Regions from separate parts of the Homo sapiens genome. Here regions 1, 2, 3 and 5 are each linked to region 4. The links come from fine-mapping of genetic effects on gene expression. A gene starts in region 4. Each other region holds a variant in brackets. All regions are shown on one strand. Distances are from middle to middle.

Region 1 (5,000 bases), 43 kb after region 4:
GACCCAGGTGGACGGCTCCGGAGTCAGCCCTGCTGGGGTCAGGACTTCCCACCTGTGCGACCTGCAGTGGGCACAGGGTGGTTCTGTGGCCTTCTCCTCACCAGTCAATGGGGCAAAAATAACAGGCTCTGCCCTCAGCCACTGCGCCAGCTGAATGGGAGCTCCTGGGATGCGCCTCACATCTCCTGCTGTTTCTAGGGACGGTGGCCCTGCAGCAGCAGAGGGCAGACTCCTCGCAACTCCCCTCCACCCCCTTCCCCTGCAGCAAGGTTGAGAGGTCAGAGGAAGCCTGCTGGGGGCTGGCCGAGGTGCTAGCGTGCTCCTAAATGGCACCCACCCTTCCTGCTCCTCATTTCCTGATTCTTGGAGATACAGCTGCTGCCCATAGCCATGTGGGCTGGCATTGAAGGAAAACCAGCATTTAAAAGATGGTGGAGCAGGAAGACGGGTGAGTGAGCCCTGGCAGGGGTGGCAGCGTGGGCAGTGGAGCCAGCATCCCTTTATTGGATCTGAAACAGGGATGGGCCCTGAGGGAGGGCTCATCTCACCACCTGCAACCCCTGAGGGCTCATCTCTGCACCTGCGTCCCCCGAGGGCTCATCTCTGCACCTGTGTCCCCTGAGGCCAAGCACAGCACACTCCTGCCTGCTTGTCGTGGTGCCTGTTGTGCCTGTGGCAGTTTGGACAGTGTCTCCTCCACCAGCCGTCAGTGCTACAGTGGCCACCATGTGTGCTCCCTGATGAATTCAGAGTCTCTGTTACTGTTTCCCTCCCTTTCTACCTGGAGCCCATCCTTTTACCCATCCCTTGCCAACCTCACTGACACCCTCACCTGGGGTCCTTCCCTGGTTGCTGATCTTCACAGCATGACACCTGGACATATACCAGTGATTATGGAAAGAGCACAACATGACCCTCAGACGGCACCACACAGATCCACACAATGTGACCCTCGGCACCATGCAGATCCACACAACGTGATCCAGAGATGGTGCCACATGGATCCACACAACGTGATCCAGAGATGGTGCCACACGGACCCACACAACGTGACCCTGAGACAGCACCACACAGATCCCCACAATGTGACCCCCAGACAGCACCACGCAGATCCACAGGTGATCCAGAGATGGTGCCACACGGATCCACACAACGTGACCCTGAGACAGCACCACACAGATCCCCACCATGTGACCCCCAGACGGCACCATGCAGATCCACACAACATGATCCAGAGATGGTGCCACATGGATCCACAAAACGTGATCCAGAGATGCTGCCACGCAGATCCACACAACGTGACCCTGAGATGGCACCACACAGATCCCCACAATGTGACCCTCATAACCCTCAGACGGCACCACATGGATCCACACAACATGATCCTCAGACGGTGCCTCATGGATCCACATGTGATCCTCAGATGGCATCACACAAGATGACCCTTAGATGGTGCCACACACAAATCCACACAACGTGACCCCCAGACAGTGCCACACGGATCCACACAGCATGACTCTCAGCTGATACCACATGGATTCACATAACGTGACACTCAGATGGTGCCACACAGATCACAGCGTGACACCTGGACATATACCAGAGATTCTGGAAAGAGCACAACATGACCCTCAGATGGTGCCACATGAATCCATGCAATGTGACCCTGAGATAGCAGATGGTGTCACATAGATCCACACAGGATGACCTCAGATGGTGCCATGCAGATCCACACAACATGACCCTCAGATGGTGCCACATGAATCCATGCAATGTGACCCTGAGATAGCAGATGGTGCCACACAGTTCCACACAGGATGACCCTCAGATGGTGACACATGAATCCATGCAATGTGACCCTGAGATAGCAGATGGTGTCACACAGATCCACACAACGTGACCCTCAGATGGTGCCACATGGACCCACACAACGTGACCCTCATGACCCTTTGATGGTCCCACACACAAATCCCCACAATGTGACCCTCAGATGGTGCCACATGGACCCACACAATGTGACCCTCATGACCCTTTGATGGTCCCACACATAAATCCACACAACGTGACCCTCAGATGGAGCCACATGGATCCACGCAACGTGATCCTCATGACCCTTAGATGGTCCCAAACACAAATCCATACAATGTGACCCTCAGATGGTGCCACACAGATCCACGCAACATAACCCTCAGACAGTGCCACAAGGATCCACACAATGTAACCCTCAGACGGTGTCACACAGATCCACATAACATGACCTTCAGACAGCGCCACAGGGATCCACACAATGTAACCCTCAGACAGTGCCACAGGATCCACACAATGTGACTCTTAGATGGAGCCACACAGATCCACACAAAGTGACCCTCAGATGGTGCCCCATAGTCACACAGGCTATGGTTGATCAATGTTCAGCCTCACTTCTCTTGCCAGCTTTGTCTCTACCAGTTTCTTCCTGGATCTCAGACCTGACTCTGTCACTTCTCTCTGCCCCACACGTTTTCACAGCTC[TTG/G]TTTCACAAAGAAAGTATGGGAACAGCCACAGAGCCTTCCTGCCTCTCTCTTGTGGCCTACCCTCCACCCAAGAACCTCACCCTATTTGTCACCTTCTCTTCTTCATAGTCTCTCCCCATCCTGGGATTTAAGCGCACTCAGGACTCTGTAAAATGCTCTCTCAGCCCGTTCGTCTGCCGTCTTTTCTCCTTCACAGCTGCTCCTGGGTCCCCTGCCTTCCTGGCTGCGTCACTGGTCTCAGCAGGCACCTGGCTCCATTTCAGCTGTCCCAGCTGAGGTGGGCTGCCGTTACCATCCTTATGCCGACAGCTTCTCTCCTTCACCACTGGCCCCATTCACTCCCTGGTCCTTCCAGGCCTGTGCCAGATACACCCTTGGTCCCAGCACTGAGACCTTCACGCTGAGGCTTTGTGACTGCAGCCTCTTTGTGTCTCACCAGCCCCCACACCCTTAGGACCGAGAGGAACAGCTCCTTAGAGGTCCAGAGCAGGCAGCCGGAATTGGGGCTTGGCCACCGCGGAGGTTCTGCCAGAAGCTATGCTCCTCTGAGCAGCTGGTTTTGAGTGAGGTTGCCCCTCGTTCCTCCTTCCCTGTACCTTGTCAGGCTTCTGCGAGCAGCTGGCCCAGCCCAGGGGCTCCCCAGGAACATCTGCTCCAAACCCTGGCTTGCACTCTGCCCTCTGCCCTCCTCAGCTTCCCTAACACCACAGGGAATGTTTACTTTTTTGTAAGTCTGCCATCGAGACTGCAAAGAGTCCCACGCGGAAACATCCGGCCACTCTCTCACTGACACCTGCTCTCCTTTCCCCAGCGTCTGGTCACTCTGCTGCCCTTGCATGGATGGGCACTCGGTACCAGCCGGGCCACAGCCACCCTGGTCCCAGCCTGGCTGGTGCAGCTTCCAGCCTCAGCGGCTCCCTCCCGCTGCCCCTCGTGGCCCAGCAGCCCGACCCCAGCCCAGCCTTCACTTCCTGAGATGACAGCCCTGCAAACTCCCCTCGGCCACAGGGATGGATCCCTCGGCCTCCCTGTCCGACTGCCAGCTGCCCCACCCATTGTGAAATGCAGCCACACCATCGTGTGTCTGTCGGTGAAGATTAACACGTGGCCCCTGCTGGCCCCCCGTCTCTCCTCTCTGGTGCCCTCTGGGTTCTGTGTCCCCTGTAGTGATGCCTGGCCGGGGGGTCCTTGCCTGCTGGTCTCTTCCTCTCCACTGTCCAGTCTGGGCTTCCCTACTTCCCCAGAGGCTCCTGGTCAGACATGCCAGGAGCCTTGTCTGGGAGCAGGTGGCAGCTGTGGACTCTCAGGCTCCTGGGAACCCCCTGCATTTGCTCTGCCTCTAGCAGGCCTGGGGGCTGTGTGTGCTCACATAGCCGAGCAGCTGGGCCTCGCTCTGGGGCCTTCACACCCACTGTGGCTTCTCCAAAGCACCTCCAACTGCCCAAGCCCCACACCTCCTCTGCCGTCTGTGCTCAGCATGGCTGACGGCCGGTCCTGCCACCCTCCTCCCTCTATCTCCGGATTCCCACCCAGCCCGTGTTCTCAACGCCCCTGCTCTGTCCAGCCTTGTAGAGACCACCATAGGACTGAGTCGAAGGGTCTTGACTGCTGGCGACGTGCAGGACCCCGTGATGAGGTGTTTTGGGGCAGGGGGCAGGGGACCCACCAGGGTCCCGGGACGGGCCTTTGGGATGGGTTCCCATGACGGTCCCAGGGAGAGGAGCTGGAAGGTGGTGGAGGCTGAGGCTGCATGCACAGCACTGCGGGGTCCGTGGCTGTTCGGCTGGGGCTGGGCTCAGAAACCGCTGCACAGTCAGAGCTGGGGTGTGAGTCCTGCCCCGCCACTTGGTGGCCGTGGCCGAGCCCCACCAGCCCACCAGGATCGTCCATCCCAGCTGCCCTCGCTGTGAACTCTTGCAGGTCTGAGGAGCCACAAAGGGGTGATGGGGGGGCTGGTGGCTTCCCCCTCATCAGGTGTGGGCGGCGTCCCTGCCCGGGGTGCACAGCGGGGGATGGGGAAGGCCATGCCACCTCACAGGCCCACTCGCTCCTCCCTCTCTGCACCCGACCTGTGCTTCCTTCCTGCCAAGAGGCTTGTCTAGGAGCCATGAACACTGGGTAGCTGGGCAGGGCCTCTCACCCGGCTGGCCCATTGGCTTCTGACATGTTGGGAGGGATGGAGGGGGGCCTGGTGTCCGCCTTCTGGGACCTGTGGTTCCTGAGCCCAAGGTTTTAGGGTTCACAATCCATGCCCAGGCCTGGGCCAGGCTCCAGGAAGGTTGTGCTCAGTCCTGAGTCCCGGCAGGGCCCCCCTTGTGCAGGCCCTGGGATTCGCTGTGTCTCCCCAAGGGGCTGCCGTGACACACAACATGTGTAGTCGTGGGGTTCTGGGAGCAGACAGGGACTTGGAGCCATCAGCTGAAGCCCTGCACCTCCCAGAAGCTGGTCCCACGTGGCCTGGCACCGCCTGGGCTCCCTGTAGGCCC
Region 2 (5,172 bases), 390 kb after region 4:
GCTTTTGTTACATTCTACTTTTGATATGTCCTATTTCTATTTTCATTTGTCTCAAGATACTTTCTGATTTTTCTTTTCTTTTTCTTCTTTGACTCATCAGTTGTTCAGAAGCATGTTGTCTAATATACACATATTTGTAAGATTTTCAATGTTCACTCTGCTATTGATTTCTCATTTATAAAATTGTAATTTAAAAACTTGATATGATTTCAGGCTGGGCTCGGTGGCTCATGCCTATAATCCCAGCACTTTGGGAGGCTGAGGTGGGTGGATCACGAGGTCAGGAGATCGAGGCCATCCTAGTTAACAAGGTGAAACCTTGTCTCTACTAAAAATACAAAAAAATTAGCCGGGCGTGGTGGCGGGTGCCTGTAGTCCCAGCTACTCAGGAGGCTGAGGCAGGAGAATGGCGTGAACCCTGGAGGCGGAACTTGCAGTGAGCCGAGATCGCACCACTGCACTACAGCCTGGGCGACAGAGCAAGACTCCTTCTCAAAAAAACTAAAAAAAACACAAACAAGTTGATATGATTTCAGTCTTTTAAAAAATGAAAAGACTTGTTTGTCTTTGTTGTGGGCCAGATTTATGATGTATGCTAGAGAATATTCCATGTGTGTTTGAGAAGAATATAAATTATTCTTTTGGATGAAATGTTCTATATATATGTCTTTTGGTGCAGTTGTTTTATAGTGCTATGCAAGCAATTGTTTTCTTACTAACTTTCAGTCTGAATGATGTATTAAGTAGGGCAATATAGTCCCCCAGTATTATGTTTTTCTGTTTCTCCATTTCTTTTAATATATGTTTATATATTTATGTGCTCCAATATTGGGTATATATATATTTTTAATTGTTATATTCTTTTGACAGATTAGCCTCTTATCACTATATCATGAAGTTTTTTTTTTTGTGGCAGATTTTTTTTAGAAGTCTATTTTGTCTGATGTAAATATAGCCACTTCTATACTCTTTTAGTTATTACTGGCATGGAATTTTTTTTTCATCCTTGAACCACTAACCTATGTATTTCCTTAAATCTAAAGTAAGTCGCTTGTGTGCAGCATGTTGTTGATTTTTTAAATCTATTCAGACATTTCGCGAGTGTTTTAGTTTATTTTTTGCATCAATAACAATATCCTACAGTTGGTAATTTATAAAGAATAGAAGTTTCCTTAGCTCACAATCTGGGATGCCAAGAAGTCCAAGAGCATGTCATTCCCATCTGATGACAATCATATTTCCACATCACAACACGAGCTCACTTTTATGATAGACCCACTCATGATGACTAACCCACTCGTGGAATAATGATACTGATCCTCTCATGACCTTATAACTTCTTAAAGGCCTCACTTATTAATTTTCTCACAATGGCAGTTACATTTTAACATGAATTTTGGAGGGGGCACTCAAACCATAGCAATGTGATTTTATTGGCTAACTAAATTTTTTTTATATTTAAAGGAATTACTGATTGATAAGAACTTATTACTATCATTTTGTTCATTGTTTTCTAACCATTTAGTAATTTCTGTTTTTTCTTTCATGCTGCCTTCCCTTGTATGGTGTTGAGTTTGTTTCATTTTTCTTGTTATATGCTTTAATTTCTTTTGTGTGTATGTATCTTCAACATTTTTTTTTTTGTAATTTCCAAGGGACCATAAAATATCTCATAGTTTAAAAAGTCTAGCTTAAGGTAACAATCTAACTTCTTTTTTACCCACATAGGATCTTACTTTGTTTCCCAGGATGTAGTGCAGTGGTGGGTTCACAGCTCAGTGCAGCCTTGAACTCTCCAATATCAAACACTTTTCCCATATCAGCCTCCCAAGTAGCTGGGATTACAAGCACATGCCACCATGTCCAGCTAATTTTTTTGGTATTTTTTGTAGAGACAGGGTTTTGCCATGTTGCTCAGGCTGGTCATGAACTTCTGGGCTCAAGAAATCTACCTGCCTTGGCCTCCCAGAGTGCTAGGTTTATAGGCATGCATTATCAGGCCCAACTGCTTCTTTTTAAAAAAAGAATAAATAGCTTTCTGAAATCTTTATTTTATTTTATTTATGTATTTATTTTAGAGACAGGGTCCTGCTATATTGACCAGGCTGGTTTTGAACTCCTGGCCTCAAGCAAAAGTGAACTTCTATGTATAAAAATATTAAACAGTTTTACTCCTTTCAACACACTATTTATGTCACACTTTACATCTTTTTATATTATATACCATTAACAAATTATTGAAGCTATATGCTTTATTCACTTTTTTAAAAAAAGTCTATTTACGAACTTTCAAATGACTTTTAAGTTTGTTGATTTTTCCCCTTCTGTATAACTGAGTCTCCTGTTAAAGCTTTCTGTTAAATATTTTAGTTCTACTATTGTGTACTTCAGCTCCAGCATATCGCCTTGGTTCTTTGTTAATGGCTTATCTTTCTTTATTATCATTGGTTTTCTTCATGCATTGTTGCAAAAAATTTAGTAATATGTGTACTTTTGCATCTTATCGAGATTTTTAAAGATAATTATTTTAAATTCTCTGTTAGCCATTTTTTAGATCTGTGTTTTATTGTTAGTGCTTCCTGGAGCATTTTTAGTTTCCTTTCATGCTGTTATGTTTGCCTGATCCTTCATAATTCATGAGGCTTTGTTTTGATGTCCTTGCATCTGAAGGAGTAAATACCTCTTTCAGTCATTATAGACTAGTTTGAGGAGGTAAATATCTTCTCCCATTGGATTTCTGGGCTGATGAGATTTCCACTGAGGTTGCAATAAAGTGCTTTGGAATCCGGGTCA[C/T]GTAGCTACTACTGGGTTTGCAGTGAAATTCCTGCTTGGCAGACCTGTCATCAGGGCATCAGACAGTTGTGGATTCTATTTTCTGAGAAGACTGAACTTTCTTCAAGATGTTGATCAATATGACTGGCACTGAGGAAAAAAGCCTCCAGTTATATATGCAGATTAAGGTGCTGATACAATCAATGTGAGCAGGTGTGGCTCCTGCTGTGTCGCTCTTGCGAGGTGTTTGGAAATGCTCTAACCTAGTCATTGGACAGGTTCCTAGATGAGCAGTAATGACCCTTGATCACAGCTGAGAGGGTATGAAACTGATTCATGCGGCTGCTTCAGGATACACAGCTGAGACCAAAGTGTTCAGGTCTTTTTCTGGGTTAACGGTATTTCTCCCTGTGGATTTCTAGGTGGGTAGGACTTCTTCCAGACTCTAGATGACAGAGACCAGAGCTTGGTTATAGGACTGCTTTACAATTCACAGTGGGAATAAAGTCAGCCAGCATGCCTACAGGGGCACATACAGGTGTGCTTTTTGGCAGGTCCCAGGTTAGGAAAAACTTCTTCTGGACTTGGTTGCATGGACTTGGAGCCAGCTTATAGTGCCACGTCAAGATCCACTGTCAAATAATTATTGGCAAGCCTACATTCGGGCACAGATGGATGTTTCTCTCTGTGGGTGTCTGGGCAGGATTCCTTCCACACCATGACTGACATGTGTAAAGAGTGGATTTGGGGCTAATTCAGAGATCACAGATAGAACCAACTTCTAAAGGCCTTTCACCTGAGGCATAGAACATTAGAAATTCTCCTAGGTGTCTTTGCAGATGGTGCTAGTAGCAGGAACAAAACCAAATGGTCTGCAGCTAAGTCTACAATGAAAATTGGACACATTTTATTCTGTAGCTGGGACTGTGATGGGCAAGCATGCCACTCAAGCAAGGGCATGCCTTTTCAATACAGCCCTCCTCAGTCTTGGGTTCACAACCCTTGACATGGATTCCAAAGCTCCCATAAATTTCCTTTTTCAGGACATAACTGCTGCTTTTTTTTGGCAGAATTTTTTGCTCTTGTTGCCCAGGCTGGAGTGCAATGGTACCATCTCAGCTCACTGCAACCTCTGCCTCTCGGATTCAAGCAATTCTCCTGCCTCAGCCTCCCGAGTAGGTGGGATTACAGGCATGCGCCAGCCACCACACCCGGCTAATTTTTTTGTTTTGTATTTTTAGTAGAGATGGTCAGGCTGGTCTCGAACTCCTGACCTTGAGATCCACCTGCCTCAGCCTTCCAAAGTGCTGGGATTACAGGTGTGAGCCACTGCAGCTGGCCGTTTTTTTTTTTTTTCTTACTGCTGTACATTGCATGTCAAAGATTCAAAATGCTGGATCTTCATAAGTACATAGTCACAGTTGAAAACTGTAGTTGTTTGAAGGATTGTTTTTATGATACATCTACATCTATATTCTATATTTTATAGGTCAGAATTTTTTATTGTTTTCAAACTCTATTTTACTGGGGAGTCTTTTTTCATGTAGGTTCTCCTCAATTATTTTTTGTTTTTAATCTTCATATTTGTATGGTAATTTTCAACTCTGTACCTTTTATGACCATGTGGTGTTTAATTCAAATAAAAATCATTGGGTTTCACTTGGAGCAATTTAAAATATATGTGTAATTCAGACATTTCTATAGCCTATAAAAGTTATCTATGTGGTGTTTGCCTGTGTAAATAATGCCCCTACCTGGTTTATAAATTTTTCTTTCTGGTGGTCATCACTGTTTTCTTTTATAGGTGAGTAGTCAAAGAAACAGTAAAAAATTACCACCTATTTATTGTTTGAGTATATGTTATTCTGTGAGAGAAACACTTTTTATTTGAAGGTGATTTTTGAAAAATGTAACCTTTTTAGGTAGATGTAAATATTTAGTTGTGATGAAAAACCTAACATTGCTTAAAGGTTTTCAAGTGTACAGCCTAGTGGAGTTAAGTACATTTACATTATTTTGAAATGGATCTCTAGATTAATTTTATCAAAGTAAAGTTCATACCTCATAAACAATAAACTGCCATTTTTTTCTCTTCAGGTCCTGAAGAACACCATTTTACTTACTATTTCTATAATTTTGACTGATTTTTATATTCTTATTGGTGTAATTATATAATATAATGTCTGGTTGTTGTTTTTTTTTTTTGAGACGGAGTCTCGCTCTGTCACCCACGCTGGAGTGCAGTGGCGTGATATTGGCTCACTGCAAGCTCTGCCTCCCGGGTTCACGCCATTCTCCTGCCTCAGCCTCCAGAGTAGCTGGGACTACAAGCGCCCACCACCACGCCCAGCTAATTTTTTTTGTTTTTGTATTTTTAGTAGAGACAAGGTTTCACCGTGT
Region 3 (5,172 bases), 25 kb before region 4:
CAGCCTCTCAAGTAGCTGGGATTACAGGCATAAGCCACCACACCTGGCTAATTTTTGAATTTTTAGTAGAGATGGAGTCTTGGCATGTTGGCCAGGTTGGTCTCGAACTCCTGACCTCAAGTGATTCACCTGTCTCGGCCTCCCAAAGTGCTGGGATTACAGGCATGAGCCACCATGCCTGGCCCCTGTCTCTTAAAAAAAATAAAAAATAAAAAAATAAAAATAGGTGGGGTGCAGTGGCTCATGCCTATAACCCCAGCACTTTGAAAGGCCGAGACTGGTGGATCATTTGAACCCAGGAGTTCAAGACCAGCCTGAGCAACATGGTGAAACCCTGTTTATACTAAAAATAAACAACAACAAGTATCTGGGCATGGTGGTGCATGGTGGTGTGCATCTGTGGCCTCAGCTCCTTGGGAGGTTGAGGTGGGAGGATTGCTTGAGCCCAGCAGGTGGAGGTTGCAGTGAGCCGAGATTGCACCGCTGTACTCCAGCCCAGATGACAGAGGAAGACCCTGTCTCAAAATAAAATAAATAAATAAATAAATCCCTGTGGATTCTGGGAAGATGGTGGCAGTAGCAAGAATTTTGTATCTCCCCGAATTCCCTCATGAGACTCATAAAACTACAAGGCAGATCAAAACTGAGGTGCACAGCACTGACTGCAAAGCCAGAAGATGACGTATTTTCACACCAGGGGGAGGCAAAGCTCACAGCCTCAATCTCTGTGCCATCGGCATGTGTGTGCAGGGCGTGAGTTTACCCTCTTTCCCGAAGCAGCTGAAACAGTGGACAAAATACATCCAACGATCTTCAGACACTGGGCATCAGGGAGCACAGGACATGGTGCCTGAGAGAGGAGCAAATGGGGCGAGGCCTAAAGGAAGCCTCCTGGCTGCAACTCAGGGAGAGGAGCTGGGCGGAGGAGGCAAAGCTGGGAGTCAGGGAGGCCCACACACCAGAGTCCACAGGGCAGGGACGGAGAGGAGGGACTGCCCACAGCCAGAGCTCCAGGATGGGGCAGGCATGTGGGAGCTGCCCGGAGCTGGCAAGGACTCTGGAAAGAAGCTGGCGGAACAGGGCTGGGAGTCTTTGCACCCCCTCCGGCCCCAGGATGTCCTCGTCGTCCCAGGGGCACCAGGCAGGGCGGTCAGCTGTGGGACAGGAGCGAACTCTGCGCTGGTCCAGACTCCAAAGCTCAGAAGGCTGGAAGGACCAATGTGTCTCCAAGTAACTTGACTTTGTGTCCAGAGCAAAACACAGGGATATTTAATAGGAATGCAAATATACTCAGAACTCAACAGGGAAAGTGAACAACGCCTGCATCTAATCAAAAGTCATCAGACATGCAAAGAGGAAAATATGACCCGCGACGAGGAAGAAACTCCATCAGTGTGCGCCGGCCACGACTGAAGCCACTGATTGAAGCACAGTAAGGATGCTTGCACCACGAATGCATAATGCCACTGAAAAAGCTGCTGTGGATGGGTTCTGGGGCGCCAGCTTGTTATTTACAAAACTGGTGAAGGGTGGGCGTCAACCAGCCTCTCATCTTCCCTTATGCACACGACACCTCGGGGTGGCCAAAGATCTGGCGAGTGCTGGCTTCTCTCTAGGAACATTGCAGCTGGTAAATGAAGAAAGTATAGAATAAACTCTCCCCCGTCACAGCCCCAGTGAGATAATGACACAGGTAACAACCGTCATTGATATGAACATTACCAGAGAGACAGCCGGATGTCATGGGCCTCCTGGTAGGAAAGCGACACGGCTACAACGAGATCTTGCTTAAAAATCCACCCTGAATACAGGTGCAGCAGGTGCTCCGTCCCCCCACCCAGCCTCGCCCCTCTGGCTGCTCCGTGGGAGGCCCCCCAGTGGGTCTTCGTCCCAGGCCTTCTCTGGCTGGGGCCCACGGTGCAGGGGGAGCTCTCCCAGGGACTCAGGCAGCCCTGGGATGCACCTTTTCTTCAGCGTTGCTGTTTCTTCCCATTTCACACTCTCTGCCCCTTTCTGACTCCCTAAGGTGGTCGCCCGAGGAAAGATCCCAGCCCAACCCACCCCAAGCCCCTTAGCTCAGGCTCTGCTTCTTGGGGACCCACACTAAGACACTGATTAGGCCTCCGGGTCTCACACTGATTTATAGAATTCGGGGACAGGCGGGAGA[T/C]GCCTTGGAATGTCAGCAGAAACTCTCAGGACTAGGAACTGTTTCTTCCACAACCAGCTGTGCAGGGGATTGAAGAAGATACAATGAGAGAAACAATCGAGAGGAAGTGAGTGTAGACCTATGGCTTGATTTGCATCCTGAGTCACGCAAACTGAAAACGAAACGAAGCACATTACGCAACAATCGTGGTGAGGGACACTGATTAGATATTTGGTAATGTTGAAAATCAGCCGGGCCCGGTGGTTCACGCCTATAATCCCAACCCTTTGGGAGGTCAAAGTGGGTGGATCACCTGAGGTCAGGAGTTTGAGACCAGCCTGGCCAACATGGTGAAACCCCATCTGTACTAAATATACAAAAAAAATTAGCTGGGCGTGGTGGTGGGCACCTGGAATCCCAGCTACCTGGGAGGCTGAGGCAGGAGAATTGCTTGAACTCAGGAGGCAGAGGTTGCAGTGAGCCAAGATAGTGCCACTGCACTCCAGCCTGGGCGACAGAGCGAGACTCCATCTCAAAAAAAAAAAAAAAAAAGATTGCCGCCCTCGCTTGCTGCTTGTGCCGCCTGCCCACCTCAGGCGCCCTTCAGTCTCCTTCCACTTCTCCCTCCAGACGCCAGGCCCCTCTGGGAGCCGGAAGTGCCCGCAGGTGCCCTGCAGAGGAGGCCTCATGGGAGTTTGTTGGGTGAACGCATCAGTGAATGCCTGTTTCAATCAACCAGGTGGAAATCTTGGAAATAAAATTTATAGTCCTGGACACACACGAAAACCAGTCCATGAGGTAATTCACAAACCAGTTGAAGAGCTTGGTGTGGCTGTAAGTGACGCTGCTGAGGACAGGGAGGCAGGGAAGCAGTGGAAGCGCAGGGGAGCCAGGCAGGGCTGAAATCGCAGACGTGATGATCTCACAAGAGCAGAGGAAGAGAGAGTCGTGAGGAGCTTCAGACTTGAGGACTAACCTGACTCTGCAGGTGGAGACGCAAACACCGTGCTAGGAACATGCTCGGACGCCTGGTAGGATGCCGGATATGGGGAGGCAGGACGCCCACAAAAGAGTCAGAAGAACCAGACCCTGAGCAGCTGGCACATCACCAACAACTGAACCCAAGTATCATTTAACCATCGCCGGAGAAATAATTCCAGCCGTTCACCTGTGTGTGTGTGTGTGTGTGTGTGTGTGTGTGTGTGTGTAGTTTTTTGTTTTGTTTTGTTTGTTTTCAGACGGAGTCTCGCTCTTGTCCCCCAGGCTTGAGTGCAGTGGCGCGATCTCGGCTCACTGCAACCTCCGCCTCCCGGGCTCAAGTGATTCTCCTGCCTCAGCCTCCTGAGTAGCTGGGATTACAGGCATGTGCCACCATGTCCGGCTAATTTTTTGTATTTTTAGTAGAGACGGAGTTTAATTTTGTATTTTTAATAGAGACGGGGTTTCACCATGTTGGTTGGGCGGGTCTCGAACTCCTGACCTCAGGTGATCCGCCTGCCTCAGCCTCTCAAAGTGCTGGGATTACAGGCGTGAACCACCGCGCCCGGCCTGTGTGTGCGTGTTTTTACACAAAACTAAAACTCAGCAATGACCACCAGAAAGCTGCGTGTGGTGTGGTGAGCAGGGAGCACGCTCTAAAGCCCCGGCCTGCTCAGAAGAGCCTGGAGACACTGCATGGACTTGGCCTATCTTGGAATAATGTGCAGTTAACTGTGTAGGTTAAACATCGAATGTCAACGGCCAGGCACGGTGGCTCGCGCCTGTAATCCCAGCACTTTGGGAGGCTGATGCAGGCGGATCACTTGAGGTCAGGAGTTTTGAGACCTGGCCAACATGGCAAAACCGTCTCTACTAAAAATACAAAAATTAGGCGGACGTGGTGGCACATGCCTATAATCCCAGTTACTTGGGAGGCTGAGGCAGGAGAATCCTTTGAACCCGGGAGGCGGAGATTGCAGTGAGCCGAGGTCGTACCACTGCACTCTAGCCTGGGCGAGAGAGGGAGACTCTGTCTCAAACAAACTAACTAACTAACCAATATAGAACACACCGCACAAAGAGCATCCAGTGTGGACTTCAGGATGGACTTCGGTTAAGAAGATCGTGTCGATATCGGTTCATCAATCCTAACAAAAGTACCAAACTCATGCGAGATGTAGATAACAGGGAAGTGGAGTGCAGGGTTTGGGGGAGAGAGGGGTATATGGGAACGCCGTACTTTCTGATAGATTTTTCTGTAAATCTAAAATTGCTCTGAAACATAAAGTCTAATAATTTTAAAAAGCAAATAAATGTAGCCAAAGAGTGCAAAACTAATATTCTGAAAGCTACAACTACAAACCATGACCAAAAGAATCTAAAGAAGGTCTAAGTAAATGGAAAGATGTCCTGCGTCCGTGGTGGGAAGACAATATTGTTAAGGTGTCTCCAACCTAATCATTCAACACAATCCATATCAAAGTCCTAATGAGCTTTTTTCAGAAATTGACAAGCTGATCCTAAAATTTATATGGAAATTCAGGGGACTCAGAATAGCCAAAACAACCTTAAAAAGAACAAAATTGGTTGGGTGCAGTGGCTCACGCCTGTAATCCCAGTACTTTCGGAGGCCGAGGCAGGTGGATCACCTGAGGTCAGGAGTTCCAGACCAGCCTGGTCAACATGGTGAAACCCCGTCTCTACTAAAAATACAAATATTAGCCAGACGTGGTGGCAGGCGCCTGTAATCCCAGCTACTCGGGAGGCTGAGGCAGAAGAATCGCTTGAACCCAGGAGGTGGAGGTTGCAGTGAGCTGAGATCGCGCCACTGCACTCCAGCCTGGGCAACAGAAGGAGCTCCATCTCAAAAAGAAAAACAAAACAAAAACAAAAAACAAAGATAGATGCTCATTTCCAACATATTCAATAAAAATTTGATAACATACACAAAGTAGTTATGCCACACTATACACAAAATGTTAGATATCAGTCATACCCACAGAGAAATTAGACACATACACTACACACAGGCATGTGCGCGCGCACAC
Region 4 (5,000 bases):
GCCCCTCGGTGCTGCAGGGGCAGTGGTGGGAGTGACTATATGCAGCCACAACAGCAGGTGGGATCCCTGGGGGCGCCACCGTGTCTGCAAGGCTAAAAAGACAGGTGCCACTTGCATGTCTCTTGAGCAGAGGTCCTACCCCCTGAGGGACACATGGTCACAGTTGGCGTCCCCTGAGATGCTGCCTGGTGCCATCCCCAGGTCCAGCGGCCTCTATGAAGCACTGACTCCTGAGGTTGAGGACCCTGGAGGCATGACCTGCCCAGGAGGGACCTGGGGCCGACTGCAAGGTGTCAGGTGACCAGATGTGGAACCCTGGGGCTGGGAGCAAGGGCCAGGGCATCCCCTGCTGCCAGTCCAGTGGGGTCTGGGTGTGATCCTGAAGGGGCACTGCTGGGCTGCAGGAGTGGGGAGAACCACACCGAGGGGGGAAGCATGGTTGGGAGGCCCCCCGAGGCCACCGGGAATGTGAGAAGGGCTGCAGAGCCCCCTGCAGAGGGTTCCCAGGCCACTGGAGTCTGAGCACAGTGCTAAAGATAGCAGCAAGCCTGAGCCGGGGGAGTATCGGCTTCTGCACCCACAGCTGACCTGACAGCTGCAGAGGCCCCTGCGGGCGGTGTGCTGAGCCAGGTGGGACCCGTCCCACCACTAAGCTCTCAGGAAAGGCCTTGAGCAAAGGCAAGTCTCCATTGGCTTCAGGGGGTTTTCCCCAGGCCGTGTGTGTTTGCCCGCATGTTTTCTCTGCTGGTGCCCTGCCCCGCCCCACCTCTGGTGGAAGCTGCTGGTATGTCCCCCTCACCCCCTACCTTGGGCCCCAGAGACACTTATTTTTGATTCTGGAAGCAGGAGTTGCTGAGGAGTCTGGATTATTTTAAACTCCAGTGAAGGGAAAACCCATTGTCACCTGAGGCCGTCTGCCCTGGCGGAAGCGGGGGCTTGCCGAGGGCCAAGATGGTTCTGTGCCTTGTGGATCCAGTGTGCACCTGCGGCTTCCTCAGCGAGCAGTAGACACGGGGAGGGCTGGAGTTTGCTTCTGGCCCCCTGAGGACAGGGTTCAGGCAGAGGCCTCAGGCAGGAGTCTTCAGGGACTGCCAGCCAACCTCACAGAAGCTGGAGAAAAGATCAGGTGGCCCTACAGCAAGTACCTAACCTTTTTGGCGCCTGGGACAGGTTTCACGGAGGACAGTTTTTCCGTGTTGGGGAGGAAGGTTTCGGGATGAAACTATTCCACCTCAGTTCATCAGGCATTAGATTCTCACCAGAGCGCAATCCAGATCCAAGTGCGCAGCTCACAGTAGGGTTCACGCTCCTATGGGAATCTGATGCCCAGGCTGATCTGAAAGTGGGTGGAGCTCGGGCAATCATGCTCCCTCACCTCGTCCTGTGCTGCCCGGTTCCTAACGGGCCACAAGCTGGTACTGGTCTGCACCTGGGGGTTGGGGACCCCTGCCCTATAGGACTGGCCTTGGTATACCCAGCTCAGGAAACAGAGCCCAGTGACTTCCTAGTTTCTCAGCCAGAGAGGCCCAGGCCCTGGACCCCAGAGCAAGCCAGGAGAGGGGGCAGAGGCGACTTAGGCCCGGACAGGTAGCCCAGGCCGCCAGGATCACGGGTCCTCCCCATGCTTGCTTCAAGAGTCCTGGAGTTTGTGATGCTGCACCTTAGCGAGACCCGAGCCATAGTTCTCCAGTTGCTTCTGCCTGTAGCAGTGCAGGGCCAGGAGGGGACACAGGAGGCCTTGCGTCACTACTGCATGGGGCCAAAGGGGGCCCGAGGGTGGCCCAGCACGGGCAGCATGGCTGCCGCCAGGAAGACCCAGAACGTGGAGGGGGTGCCAGGCTCCTGCCTAGACTCCAAGCCTGGTGTCCATGGGGCTGGCGGGTCAGCACTTCGGGCACAGCGGGGAGGCTGCATAGGCACCGCAGGCCCCATCTCTGGGCAGCTGTGGGAGACACACAGCTACCGGGAGGTGGACAGAGGCCAGCAAAGACCAGTGTGGGGCTCAGTGGTCCCCAGGCCTGGGCCGGGGCAGGCCCTTGGAGCCGTGGAGTCCTGAGGCCTGGAGTCGGGGGACCCAGGGAGCAGCCTCTGTTGGGGGCTGGTCTTCCCAAGAAGATCCCAGCCCCTCTTCGGGACAGAAGTGATGGGGCATCCTGGGGTGAGGAAGCTCCAGCTCCGGGATGAAGGGCGCCCCGTGCTCCCGGGCAGAGCAGCCGCAGGAAGAGGGGCCTGGAGGCCATGCTCCCGCGGGCCGCGGAATCCAACGCGGCCCGGCCGGCGACAGACACTACTGCCTTGTAGGAGAAGGACCTGCCCGGGGAGCCACCTGCACTCGGCTCACACTCCGCTCCCAGGACCCCCAGGTCCCTGCCCAGGCCACCCTCGGGTGGGCGCGGTCCGCGGGGCTGGACCCGCCCGAGCCGCCCTGACCTCAGGCCTCCGACGCTCCGCGCAAGAAGACAGAGTGCGCCCCGGCCCGCAGTCTGGGGTGTGGACACACGGCCAGGACGCGGACGGCGGGGCCTCGGCAGCAGCGCGGGGAAACAGCGGACCCCCAGCCCTGCGGGGAAAGGAAACCCCCCGCCCACTCGGCGCAGATCCCGCCTCACGCAGCAACTGCGCAGGCGCAGCCGATGATCCTCCGCGCACTCCCCAGCCTTTGTGCGCGTGCGCCTCACGTGACGTCACCGCCGCGCGGGGGCGCGCAGTCACCCTTCGGTCGCCAGGGGGCGCGGCCCCCCGCTCTCTCGCCGCTGACGGCGCATGCGTGCGCCCAGCTCCGCCTTTGCCTCCAAGGCTTTGCTGGCTTGTGCGGCATCCTGCTCCGTCTGCAGGTTGTGCTTCCGGTGCGGAGGTCAGGGACAAGATGGTGCCACCGGTGCAGGTCTCTCCGCTCATCAAGGTGATCCAGGCTTTGCAGCCGCCGCCCAGTGCTCTGGGCCCCCCCGTGTCCCGCCCCGCAGCTCCGACCCCGCGGGCTGCGACCCCCGGCCCCCGCCCCCATGATCCTCGCCCCGTGACCCTCGCCCGGCGACCGGACCCCCACCCCTCCTGCGACCTCTGCCCAGCGACCCCGCCCCCCCTCCTCCCGCGACCCCCGTCCCGCGAGCCCCGTTTCGCGCCGCCTCTGACCAACCTCTTTCGCAGCTCGGCCGCTACTCCGCCCTGTTCCTCGGTGTGGCCTACGGAGCCACGCGCTACAGTGAGTGACCGCGGGCGGGGCCGGGGCGGGGTCTGCTCGGCTTTCCTGTGGAGCTCCTGTGCTATTTGGAGAACTCCAGCTCTGGAAGGGGGCTTGGGACGCATGCGAGGCTGCAGGACCGTGTCCTCCACCGAGCGTGACCCCGATAGTGGAATCAGCTCACCCAAAGCTCAGGCTTCTGAGGCCCGGGCGGGGGACTCGAAAACGGCTGCTTCTTGGTGAAAACGGGTGCTAAATGGCTGTTCGAGTGCTGAGGTCTTGATGGGAGGCAGTCCCTGTTCGCAGAGGACGAGTGAGCCAGTGCGTGAGCGGGTGGGCAGCAGGGGCCCTGTAGCCTCTGGGTTGGACTCGTCAGGGTGAAGGTCAGGCGTTGACTCGCATTAACATAAAGAGCGGGAACAGCAGGTGCGTCTGGTTTACAGCGTCGCTGAAGATACCTTGACCTGTGGACTCAGTTCCTTTTGTACAGCATTTCCAGTGAATTTTATTCTCCTGCATTCCGCCAAACAGATTACCTAAAACCTCGGGCAGAAGAGGAGAGGAGGATAGCAGCAGAAGAGAAGAAGAAGCAGGATGAACTGAAACGGATTGCCAGAGAATTGGCAGAAGGTACGAGTGACACTGGCTCTTATAGATTGTCCCTCCCAGGTTTGTGCAGGGATAAGGAAAATGGAGGAGGACATTTAAGCAGAGCTAAGTAGATGCGGATTGTTTAAAAATGGGGAAGCTGGCCAGGCGTGGTGGCTCATGCCTGTATCCCAGCACTTTGGGAGGCCAAGGCGGGCAGATCACCTGAGGTTAGGAGTTCAAGACCAGCCTGACCAACATGGTGCAACCCTGTCTCTACAAAAATTAGCCGGGCATGGCCCGGTGCGGTGGCTCATGCCTGTAATCCTAGCACTTTGGGAGGCTGAGACAGGCAGATTGCCTGAGCTCTGGAGTTCGAGACCAGCCTGGGCAAGATGGTGAAACCCCATTTCTACTAAAATACAAAAAATCAGCCGGGCATGGTGGCAGGCACCTGTAATCCCAGCTACTCAGAAAGCTGAGGCATGAGAATTGCTTGAACCCGGGAGGCGGAGGTTGCAGTGAGCTGAGATCACGCCACTGCACTCCAGCCTGAGCAGCAAAGTGAAATTCTGTCTAAAAAAAATTAGCCAGGCATGATGGCGGGTGCATGTAATCCCAGCTACTCAGAAGGCTGAGGTGGGAGAATCGCTTTAACCTGGGATGCAGAGGTTGCAGTGAGCTGAGATTGCGCCATTGGGTGACAGAGCGAGACTCCGTCTCAAAACAAAAAAAAAAAAAAAAAAAATAACTGGGAAGCTGAAGTGGTCTTTTTAGGTTGCCTGAGTGGTAACATGTGCTTTTCTTCTAACCTTCCGGCCCAAGATGACAGCATATTAAAGTGAGTGACCCTGCGACCCACTCTTTGGACCAGCAGCGGATGAATAAAGCTTCCTGTGTTGTGTGATACTCCGGCTCCTCATTTGCTGTCGCTGGTTGTGGAATTCCTAGGTTGAAGTTCTGTCCACCTCCCAGTTCACGTGAGGTGGAAGACAGGGAGGGGGTTTCAAAAGAATCCACATTACCATTCACAGACCCAGAATGCATCATGTAAACACAGTGGGAAGGACAGATGCGCGCTGCCTGTTCTGTCTGGGGCATCCAGGTGGGGAGCCCCAAAGGCCGTCTGTAATGGAGTCAGTCAGCTGGGGGCCTCATGAGTACTGGGGTTGTCTTGATTCTGAGTTCTAGGCTGCTGCTCTCAGCAGCCCAGACCCCTGGATGGGGAGGG
Region 5 (5,172 bases), 340 kb after region 4:
CCAAGAAATTCCAATGGAGGAAGTTTGTTCAACAAATAATGCTGAGAAATCAGTTTTCATTGTGCAAAAATGAAGAATATACATCCATATATATTAAATGAGAGTAAGTGAATACCCATATAACAATAGAAAGTATTAATTAAATTATTTTTACATATAAAAGCTCAGTGTCAAATTGCATTAATTCTGAATTTCACTGACATTTAATAAAAATGTAATATAATTTTTTCACATAAACTTTCATCAATGGCAGAGGTAACATTTTTCTATTAATTTACTAGCTAGGGGTACTGTGATACCAAAGCCAGACAAAAGAATCACAAGTAAAGAAGACTATGGACTAAAATTCCATATAAATATAGAATTCCTGATGAAGTTATTAGAAATGTTAGCACACGGCTGGGCATGGTGGCTCATGACTGTAATCCAGCACTTTGGGAGGCTGAGGCAGGCGGATCATGAGGTCAAGAGATCAAGGCCATCCTGGCCAACATGGTGGAACCTTGTCTCTACTAAAAATACAAAAATTAGCTGGGCGTGGTGGCGCGCACCTGTAGTCCCAGCTACTTGGAAGGCTGAGGCAGGAGAATCGCATGAACCCAGGAGGCAGAAGTTGCAGTGAGCCGAGATTGTGCCACTGCACTCCAGTCTGGGTGACAGAGCAAGACTCCATCTCAAAAAAAAAAAAAAAAGAAATGTTGGCACACTAAATCCAGCAACATGTAAAACTGATTACATACCATAACCAAGCAATAGTTTGTCACAAATGGAGTGTTGGCTTAATATTTTTAAAATCAACCAAAATATTACAAAATGTTACTTGAACAATAGAAAAAAGTGTCAATGTAAATAAGCAAAAAAAGTATAAAAAATCCAGCACCCGTTCATGATAAAACACTCAGAAATCTAGTAGAAAGGAACTTGTAAGACCTGCTAAAAAGCATCTATAAGAAATCAATAGCTGGCTGGGCACGGTGGCTCACATCTGTAATCCCAGCACTTTGGGAGGCAGAGGTGGGCAGATCAGGAGGTCAGGAGTTTGAGACCAGCCTGACCAACATGGTGAAACCCCATCTCTACTAAAAATACAAAAATTAGCCAGGCGTGGTGGTGTGTGCCTGTAATCCCAGCTACTCAGGAGGCTGAGGCAGGAGAATCGCTTGAACCCGGGAGGCAGAGGTTGCAGTGAGCCGAGATTGAGCCACTGCACTCCAGCCTAGGCAACAGAGTAAGACTCTGTCTCAAAAAAAAAAAAAAAAAAAGAAATCAATAGCTAATAGTATACTTAACGGTAGATGATTGCAGGCTGTATCTGTAAGTTTAAAAATGGAACAAGAATGTACACTTTTTCCACTCTGTTTTTACACTGTCCTGGAAGTATTAGCCAGAAAAGTATACTAGAAAAATAAATAAAATCTTCAGATTAGAAAAGAAGTAGGATACTATTATCTTGCCATAATATTGGGTTAAAAACTATGATAAATTTACCAAAAACATACTTCAGTTAATAAAAAATTTTATTAATGTCACAAAATACAAGATTAATAGACAAGGTTAAATCTTTTATATAACAGCAATCAACATACTGAAAATTAAGAACAAAATGTAATAATAATATCATAAAAACCATTTAGGTATGTGGGCAGCAAGCCACCCAGGTGCCGAGGCAAGAAACTGAGGGCACGAGCTGTTCCAGTGTAATAAAATATATAAAACAACAAGAGTTATACTAGATATAGATCATAGATATGATTATATATGAATATCAATCATTAGTTTGTAGCAATTACTCTTTATTCCAACATTATAATAATCCTTGCTCTATAATTATAACCTAGGAAAAACCAGGCCATACAGAGATAGGAGCTGAAGGGGGCACGGTGAGAAGTGACCAGAAAACAAGAGTGCGAGCCTTCTGTCATGCCCAGACAGGGCCACTAGAGGGCTTCTTGGTCTAGCGGTAACGCCAGCGTCTGGGAAGATGCCCATTACCAAGCAGACCATGGTCTAGCTGTAGCATCAGTGCCAAGGAAAAGCACCCGCTACTTAGCAGACC[G/A]GGAAAGGGACTCTCCCTTTTCCCAGGGGAGTTTAGAGAAGACTCTGTTCCACCACCTCTTGTGGAGGGCCTGACATCAGTTAGGCCTGCTCGCAGTTATCTGGAGGCCTAACCGTCTCCCTGTGATGCTGTGCTTCAGCGGTCACGCTCCTGTTTCACTTTCATGTTCCACTCTGTACACCTGGCTCTGCCCTCTAGACAGCAGTAGCAAAATTAGTGAAAGTATTAAAGTCTTTGATCTTTCTGAAAAGAGCGTAAAAGAAATAATGACGTAAGCTGTCCTCTCTCTCTCCGCTTCGGCTACCTAACAGGGAAGGGCCCCCTGTCCAGTGGACACGTGACCCACGTGACCTTACCAATCACCGGAGATGACTCGCACTCTTTACCTTGCCCCTTTTGCTTTGTATCCAATAAATAACAGGGCAGCCAGGCATTCGGGGCCACTACCGGTCTCTGCGTCTTGGTGGTAGTGGTCCCCCGGGCCCAGCTGTCTTTTCTTTCATCTCTTTGTCTCGTATCTTTATTTCTACGATCTCTCATCTCCGCACACGGAGAGAAAAACCCACAGACTCTGTGGGGCTGGTCCCTACATAGGTATATATATATATATATATGTATGTATGTATGTATGTATGTATGTATGTATGTATGTATTCGAGACAGAGTTTCACTCTTGTTGCCCAGGCTGGAGTGCGATTCATGATCTTGGCTCACTGCAACCTCCACCTCCCAGGTTCAAGCGATTCTCCTGCGTCAGCCTCTCAAGTAGCTGGGATTACAGGCATGCACCACCATGCCTGGCTAATTTTTTGTATTTTTATTATAGACGGGGTTTCACCATGTTGGCCAGGCTGGTCTCAAACTCCTGACCTCAAGTGATCTGCCTGCCTCAGCCTCCCAAAGTGCTGGGATTACAGGCATGAGCCACTGTGCCCAGCCTGTTATTTCTGTCTCTTCTGGCTTGTAGGGTTTCCAGTGAGAAGTCTTGCGGGGGTCCGACCCGCTGACCCTGACTCAATGACGGATGAACAATGTATACTGATGCAGATATTCTGCTTTGCCAGTGCAACTGAGGGTCCAGGCTGCCTCACAGACTAACAGAGGTGCTGTAGGGAGTAGCAGCCGCCACACCAACCAGCCAGCGAAACTTGCATTTATTTGGTAAAGATTAAGTAACAAAACTTTGAGTAAACACCACTAGAAGGTAATTGACATTGCCGACTTCGCGAGTAGAAAGCAATTAAGCACCCAAGATCAAAGGTTAGTCTGAGGACCACATGAGTAAACAAGGTAGTTAGATAAACTACTCTACATCCGTTTGTATTTGTGCCCTAAGTTAATAACTTAAGGTAAAGTGACCAGGCCGCCTTCAGCCAGATCTATTACCGAAGTTTTGCAAAACCCTCAGGCCTTCCAAGAGGGTTTATGGCTATTATAACTAAAACTTTTTTCACCAGTCTGTCTGAACCCCCACAAGGTCTGCTGTTAGTCTGATGAGCTTTTCTTTGTAGGTGGCCTTGCCTTACTCTCTATCTGCCCTTAAGATATTTTTATTTCATTTTGACCTTGGAGAATCTGATGATTACCTGTCTTGGGAGTAATCTTCTCATGGAATATCTTAGTGGGGCTCTCTGCATTTCCTGCATTTGAATGTTGGCCTGTCTAGCTAGGTTGAGGAAGTTCTCCTGGATGATATCCTGAAATATGTTCTCCAATTTGGTTCAGTTCTCCCCATTTCTTTCAGCTACCCCCATCAGTTGTATATTCACTCTCTACACAATCCCATATTCTAAGGTTTCATTCATTCCTTTTTTTTTTTCTTTATTTGTGTCTGCCTGTTTGATTTCAGGAAGACAGTCTTCAAGCTCTGGGATGTTTTTTCCTCCGCTTGGTCTATTCTGCTATTAATACTTGTGATTACATCGTGGAGGCCTTGTAGTGTGTTTTTCAGCTCTATCAAGTCGTTTGTGTTTCTCTTCTTACTGGCTATTTTGGCTGCCAGCTCCTGCATTGTTTTATCGTGATTCTTAGCTTCGTTGCATTGAGTTACAGTGTGCCCTTTTAGCTCAGCCAAGTTCATCTGTATTCATATTCTGAAGCCTACTTCTCTCATTTCAGCCATCTCAGCCTCAGCCTGGTTCTGATCCTTTGCTGGACAGGTGTTGCTGTCAGTTGGAGAAAAGGGCACACTCTGACTTTTGAGTTTTCATCATTTTTGTGCCACTTCTCATCTTTGTGGGCTTATCTATTTCAATGTGTGAGATTGCTGACCTTTGGATAGGGTTATTGTGGTTATTTTTTGTTATTTATTGTTTTTCTTTTAACAGTCTGACCACTGTGTGTAGGGCTGCTGTGGTTTTCTGGAGGTCTGCTCCAGACCCTGGTGCCCTTGGCTTTTTCAGTATCTGGAAGTATCACCAGTTAAGGCTGTGAAACAGCAAAGATGGCAGCCTGCCCCTTTGTCAGGTCAGAATGCATACTGACCTGTTGCCTGCCTGAACACACCTGTAGAAGGTGGCTGAAGGCTTTGGATTGGAGGTCTCACCCAACCAGGAGGAATGGGGTCAGCAGCCTACTTAAAGAAGCAGTCTGGCTGTGTTTTGGTAGAGCATCTGTGCTGTGTTGTGGATTCCTTCAGCTCTCAAATGGTTTGGGCTATCCAAAGCCCACAGTCTGCACTAACTTACCTGCCCAAACAGCAAAAATGGTGGCCCACCGCACCCCCTGGGCACTCCATCCCACGGAGAAATTAGAACTCTATTGGCCTTAGAACTTGGGCAGAAGTAGATGGAGGCCCTGGCTGGGAGGACCCGCCCAGCAAGGGGGAATGAATTGGGGTCCCACTTAAAGAAGCAGTAGGACTATGCTTCAACAAAACAGCCATGGCATGCTGGGGAACCACCTCTGCCCAAATCTGCTTGGACTCTCCAAACCCTCAGGCTTAAATGGCTTAGTCCCCCAAACAGCCAAGGTGGCAGGGCGCCCCTCCACCATGGGCATTCCATCCCAGAGAGAAATCAGAACTCTGTTCATAGAATATGGGTGGGGCAGCTGGAGGCCCCTGCTGGGAGAACTCACACAGTGAGGGAAATGGATTGGGGTCCCATTTAAAGAAG

Direction of the effects. Alleles are on the strand shown, and positions count from the first base shown. SD is a standard deviation of normalised expression in the study named. Not every link is listed here.
For the expression in prostate of the gene that starts at base 2,572 in region 4, G is the low allele of the variant in region 5 and A is the other (large effect, 1.4 SD a copy in GTEx).

Evidence for each region. PIP is the estimated chance that this variant, and not a neighbour inherited with it, causes the effect.
Region 1: its variant is fine-mapped to the expression of MYL5 in whole blood (TOPMed, PIP 0.96).
Region 2: its variant is fine-mapped to the expression of MYL5 in whole blood (TOPMed, PIP above 0.99). The same link has a PIP of 0.9 or more in lung.
Region 3: its variant is fine-mapped to the expression of MYL5 in whole blood (TOPMed, PIP above 0.99).
Region 5: its variant is fine-mapped to the expression of MYL5 in prostate (GTEx, PIP 0.99).

What each region holds. Positions count from the first base shown.
Region 1 is chr4:628,755-633,754 of GRCh38, reverse strand. All of the region lies in intron 1 of PDE6B (phosphodiesterase 6B), which reads right to left. Among named protein-coding and RNA genes, the nearest start is that of PDE6B, 5.7 kb to the right of the region's middle. The variant TTG/G (reference allele first, on the strand shown) is at 2,512.
Region 2 is chr4:279,251-284,422 of GRCh38, reverse strand. All of the region lies in intron 3 of ZNF732 (zinc finger protein 732), which reads left to right. Among named protein-coding and RNA genes, the nearest start is that of ZNF732, 24 kb to the left of the region's middle. The variant C/T (reference allele first, on the strand shown) is at 2,794.
Region 3 is chr4:696,704-701,875 of GRCh38, reverse strand. No RefSeq gene overlaps it. Among named protein-coding and RNA genes, the nearest start is that of PCGF3, 6.5 kb to the left of the region's middle. RefSeq lists an enhancer at 582-1,082. The variant T/C (reference allele first, on the strand shown) is at 2,168.
Region 4 is chr4:672,114-677,113 of GRCh38, reverse strand. It overlaps MYL5 (myosin light chain 5), which reads right to left and starts at 2,572. Exons shown (of 9, transcript NM_002477.2): 1 at 2,431-2,572; 2 at 905-1,041. ATP5ME (ATP synthase membrane subunit e) reads left to right here and starts at 2,838. Exons shown (of 4, transcript NM_007100.4): 1 at 2,838-2,902; 2 at 3,148-3,202; 3 at 3,713-3,811; 4 at 4,595-4,678. The coding sequence starts at 2,867. The coding sequence ends at 4,614. It also overlaps a transcript of SLC49A3 not described here. RefSeq lists enhancers at 2,002-2,071, 1,949-2,706 and a silencer at 2,282-2,551.
Region 5 is chr4:327,049-332,220 of GRCh38, reverse strand. No RefSeq gene overlaps it. Among named protein-coding and RNA genes, the nearest start is that of ZNF141, 8.2 kb to the left of the region's middle. The variant G/A (reference allele first, on the strand shown) is at 2,057.